Regions from separate parts of the Homo sapiens genome. Here region 1 is linked to region 2. Evidence: fine-mapped expression QTL. A gene starts in region 2. The other region holds a variant in brackets. All regions are shown on one strand. Distances are from middle to middle. Region 1 overlaps TBL1X (transducin beta like 1 X-linked). Region 2 holds the start of CLCN4 (chloride voltage-gated channel 4).

Region 1 (2,922 bases), 520 kb after region 2:
CAACCCCTTTAAGACTGAGATACAAAAAACACTATCACCAGGGTCTGCGATGGATGCCTTTGAAAGGAGGACATGTGTTGAAACCACACACACCTCAAGGAAACCGTTAGAAGCCCTCACTTTCTGAGACGCAGCACGCAGCATAGGCAGAAAGAGTATGTTATGTAGGTTATTCCCAACCTTACTAATGAACTACAGCAATAGAGTACCATTTTTGAGGATAATGCCAAATGACTATCTGCATGTATAAACCATACAAGTTATCAAAGGCTACAAAAACACTCAGTCATGTATAAATGACTGAGGTATAAAGCCAAACACAGATACCTCACGCAGAGGAGAAATCCAATGTGTGCTGGATTCAATGAAATTGAAGCTTATGTTCCCAAAGTACTGAACTAATACCCACTCAAAACATTGATAAGAGAAAGATCCCCTCCCTGCTTCCCTCTGACATTTAAAATATGGTTCAATGGCATTTCGAAAAATATTGACTGGTGTAACAGCCACTTTGGAAAAATTCAGTTCCTCAAAATGTTCAACAGAGGTACCATATGACCCACTCCTAAGTAAATGCCACAGAGAAATGAAACATATGTCCACACAAAAAAACTTGTATATGTGTGTTCATGACATCATTTTTAATAATAACCAAAAGGGAAATACAACTCCAATTTCCATCAACTGATGCATGAATCAAATATGTTCTATCCATGGTCTAGCCACACAATGGAATATTCTGACATAAAAAGAAATGACACATGCCACAATGCACACGAACCTTGAAAACATTATACTGAGTGAAAAAGCCAGTCAGAAAATTCAAATTCACTAATACATTACAAATTTTGTTTTTATAAACAGACTACACCTTTCATTAAAATACTTATACATATTTAACTTGTTAAAACAACCTACATATGCATATGTCTGGCTTTAAACAAAAGTACCTCAAACAGTAAGCTGCTTATTTTAATTAAATTTAAGTCTATCATTTTAGTTCTAGTTGGTTCTCTTAAAATAGTAAATCAAAAAGCTTCCTCAAAATTCTATCTTTACACTTTAAAACTGCCCAAGTTCTACAGGTTTGTTTGTTTGTTTTTTTAACTAAAAAGGCATTAGAGAAAGAAACAGAAAATTAAATAACAATTAAGTAAAGTGAAATTAAAATCACACGTACCGAAAGGTAGTAAGATAACTTTTACAGAACTTTTGGGGCATGGGTCTCAGTTTTAGTTTGGGCTAC[G/A]GGCTTCTCAACTCTTGACACCTGTGCACATACAATTGTTTGGTGTGCTAGTCAGGAAACCTTAGCATCTCACCAGATTTACACATAGTAATCTCCATGATTTTCTAATAAGTTTCAAAGTTAACTAGCAAATCAATTTGGAGACAGACACAAATCATATTAAGAAACTGATAAAGCATAGAATTAAGATATAGGAGCCAAATAAAATCTATACTCATGCACCCAATTATAATTAACTTGTCTGCATAATTGTAATTGATAATGTTGACAAGAGAGGTTGATTTTAGAAGGTGTCATCCTCGCCTGGTAAGACCCAGAAAAATTTGTTATAGCTCCTTCAGGATCCAAAATTCTCAGAAGGCAGGCCAGATGCAATGGCTCACACTTGTAATCCCAGCACTTTGGGAAGCCAAGGTGGGCGGATCACTTGAGCTCAGTTCGAGACCAGCCTGGACAACATGGTGAAACCCTGTCTCTACTGAAACTATTTTAAAAATTAGCCAGGTGTGGTGGCAGGTGCCTGTAATCCCAGCTACTTGAGAGGCTGAGGCAGGAGAATCGCTTGAACCTGGGAGGCGGGGGTTGCAGTGAGCCGAGATTGCACCACTGCACTCCAGCCTGGGTGACAGAGCAAAGACTCTGTCTCAAAACAAACAAACAAAAACAAAACAAAACAAAACAAAAACACAACCCAAAATTCTCAGAAGTCAGTAAAAAGGCAAATTTCTCATTTGGAATTGACTATGCAGCTCGCAATGATTTAATGATTGTCTGTCTACTACCTTCAACCTTCAGTAAGGAGAAAGACCGGGCACTTCCCCTGACAACATCATTTAAAACAGAAGGGGTTCCATTTTGGGAAAATGCAGTTCTGCTCCTCAAACGGATTTCAGGTACAAGGGCAAGGATCCAATGGCATGCTGGGCTGCTTACCTTATGGTGACTTCATGTATGGACCTGTGGACCAGCAGGCTTCCCAGCATCCGGTCATAAAAATGGGAAGCCGTCTGCAGGGACCAGCCTAGGGAGAAAGGGAAAGGTTTGAAACAAAAGACTTAAAAATCATTGGGGTGTGTTTACCTCTCAACCATCCCGTTCCTTTAGGTTTTTTCTTCTTCCTAATTAAAACTTAACACATTTTATTGGTTCTTAATTTCTGTCTTAGTCCATAGCACAGATTGTAAGGTTTTGTTTGCAAAGTGAAAGAAAGGAGAAATTAAAAGTGGCCGGTCAGGCATTATGCATGTAGAAGTTCTGAAATAAAAGAGTCTCAAAATAGATAAAATTAATGTTAGCTCAGCTATTGCTACTGCTATTATTTAAAGATAATTTAAAGATTTAAATTAATTTTAAATTACATTAAATTTAAAGATAAATTAAGGTTCCCTTGAAATATCAGTTTTTGGAACAGGGCCTTATTCAGCTGATACATGAACCTGTGCACACCCTCGGGAGAAGACAACACGCTTTAGCTAAACATTCCCCATCGCTTGGGCTAGCTTTCCAATAACTCTACCAGGCACATTTGTGTGCATATATGCATCCTCATGTACTGTGCTCATAAAAACACACAAACGGGTCAGAATCCTTTCTCCTCCGGCTCCTCTAAAATCAAGAAAACCAAAGGCACCCACTAACGTCTCAACTTTTCATTTACTCTTCAGACATTTCTGTTT
Region 2 (2,922 bases):
TCAGGCGTTTCGCTTGATGTGTGCAGCTTGCCTGGCCTTTCGCGAAGAATTATGAAAAACAACACACAGGAGGAGAAATCCAAATTATTACAGGCTCCAAGCGAGTAATAGGATTTCAAAAGAATTAGCAATAAAGGGATTACAGTGAAAGGAAATACAATTTCATGTTTTATTTTAAAACTAGTATTTATCAAATGCAGTGGAGAAATAAACATTTTGTGCAAATCAAAATGACACAAAATATAGCATGGACATACTTTGCCTAGAGTTTCTATGTTTCAAGCCGTATATCGAGTATTATACCAAACACTTTAGTTCAAAGCAATTCATTATGGAACATTATACTAATTGCACGGATGAATAATGCTTTAATTACTCTGAATAGCTGCATTCCAATATTAATTTGTATTTGCCAAAGGAAAAAATGGTGACACCACGTATTTCTACTACTTACTTAAATATGTGATGATTTAAAATAAAGCACTGCTACGTGAGCATGGTTGTATTTGTGTCTCTGTTTTCTTACATCTTCTGGCAAGGCATTTAATCTCTGAGACATGACTTAATTCACAATAACTCATTATTTCACATTTTCTAATCTTTATCACATTCTGAAGAAGTGAGTCATTTTACTATCACAGAAAATATGTACAATGTCAACATTTCTCATTCACAACTGAAACAGCCTTGCCTAGAAAGACTTTAGAAAATTACAACTGTGATAATTTTGTAAATTTGAAATAGCGTATTTCAAACTTAAGCAGTGCACATATAAACTTTTCTTTTGCCAAAATACACAAGCGTTTTTGAAATGTAAAAGGACAAAAGCAAAGACTGCTTTTATTTGTATTCCAATTGCAAATAGATTCATTTACTTTCACTTGAGTTAAAAATCACAATTTTAACATTCCCTTTGCTCACAGCCCTGAAGGAGACATGAAATAGATTGTTTTACAAGCAGGCTAGAGTTAAGTTTACTTGCAGTTTATTCCATCAGCTTTCGTGTCCTTCTATATTTAACCCTGGCCCTTATACCGTGATTCCCTCCAAATTAACCAAATTTCTGTTCAGAAGGTTAATCTCTAATTTGGGGATAAATACAGCCCTTGACTCTCACAGCGATCAATTATTTTCAACACCAGATTTTAAAAATCAACAAAGTCGCAGTGTACTTTACTAGGTCACTCCTCTCAAATTTGTTTTTCTGAGTGATAAGCAGCTTACCTTCCGCTTTCAGATTCTGAGATAAAGTTAAAACGCTACCGAAATCTCCTGCTCCTTTGGGTTGAGGGTCTAATGGAGGCAGAAACTGACAAGCTCATTTTCCTGCCAGAGGCAAATGTCGATTTCAGCCCGGAGGGCCCCGGAGGCCGGCTGGGAGCATCACGTGCTCGGCCCAGCCACTCAGCCCTGCCCAGCCAGCCTGGTCACCTCTTGGCTCCGGAGCCCCGCCGTGCCAGTGTCATTCGCCTCCTACCCCCGGAGCATTCGTGTCCAGAGAAAACCCGGCGTCCCGGAGACAGGACGCCCCACCCTCAGGGGCTGGGCTGCACGGAATTCTGTGACCGGATTTTCCAGCATCAATGGGAGGTGGTGGGTATACAAAATGCCCTGCAGCCTGAAGAGGATGGTAGCACGGTGCAGACAGCCTTGCTCCGTATTCCGGCTTGGCTGAAATGACGAAATACAGGCAACCTTCTTCATCCTGGAGCAGTTTTTTTGCAGTAGGTTAGTTTCACCTTCTCTTTTTTCTAGGTGATTGCTCAATTGTAAAAAACATTGCAGCAAACCGGCAATTCAGACAAGGCCCAGAACTGGGCCAAGCAATTCTCAACAGAATGAGAGAGCTGTCTGAACACCCTCCACCCTCGCCTTTCAAATTGTCATTTTAGCCAAGATTAAAAAACAAAACCAAAAAAAGCAAAAACCAATACCACCCATGGGAATGTAAGTTGAGCAATCTTTCTGGTGGTCTGTTTAGCATTTTTCCTACCAAATGCCTTACAGATACACAGTTTCGCCAATTACTCCGGGCCCTACAGCTGTTGGTATCATGTGCTCCAGCAACTTGATGTCCAAGAATTTGTCCTGGGGTGTGGGGAGTGGGGGTGGGGGGAAGAACGGTGTGCAAACCCCTGACTAGGGAAAGTTTGCTGCAATATTACTTATGATCTCAAAGCACTGGAAACAAGTTAAATCTCCAAAAACAGGGGATGTTTTAAATTATAAGCCATCTGTGCAGTGGAAGAATTAAAACTAATACGGTGGTACACACGGATGGAAAAAGACATGTGCAGCGGATTAAATGGGAAAAAAAATGGAAGCTTCAAAGCATTATGTGCTGAGTGATCCGTCGTTTCTATGTAGGTGTAATATATTTATATCTACACATATACCTTTGCGAACACAGAAAACTATTAGGAAATGAATTCACTAAAGTATCAAACATGGTATCTCACTGGTTAGTGGGATTAAGGGTGTTTTAAATTTTTCTTCTTTTAAGCTTAGAGATATCGTCTAATTTTTCCACAGTGAATATGTATTGCTTTTATAGCAACAAAAAAATTGTTTTCTTAAAAGCACCATATAGACATGATTATGGAATAAACAAACAGTTTTGGCTAATTTTTTAATGCAGATTTCATTACTTGAAGATCCTGAATTCTTAACCACAAAGTCCCGAGGGAACAATCCCTAGCCATCCTAGATTATTCTGCTCATGAAGATCTTTAGGAAAGAAAGTGCCATTCAGGGGCCGTTGTTAATATTTAACCATCTGTATGTCCAGTTTTAATTTCTCTTCCATTTAAACCTACTTCTTTTTACTTTGCTCTGTGTGGAGATAGAAAGCTGGTTATTACCATCCTTCATGAAAAGATTCTTTCAATAGTTACGGAATAATAACCTTTGAGTTTTTTGTTC

What was found. PIP is the estimated chance that this variant, and not a neighbour inherited with it, causes the effect.
Region 1: its variant is fine-mapped to the expression of CLCN4 in lymphoblastoid cells (GTEx, PIP 0.94).

The regions. Positions count from the first base shown.
Region 1 is chrX:9,639,618-9,642,539 of GRCh38, reverse strand. It overlaps TBL1X (transducin beta like 1 X-linked), which reads right to left. Exons shown (of 18, transcript NM_005647.4): 3 at 2,180-2,267. Among named protein-coding and RNA genes, the nearest start is that of GPR143, 120 kb to the left of the region's middle. The variant G/A (reference allele first, on the strand shown) is at 1,247.
Region 2 is chrX:10,155,403-10,158,324 of GRCh38, reverse strand. It overlaps CLCN4 (chloride voltage-gated channel 4), which reads right to left and starts at 1,350. Exons shown (of 13, transcript NM_001830.4): 1 at 1,225-1,350; 2 at 1-36.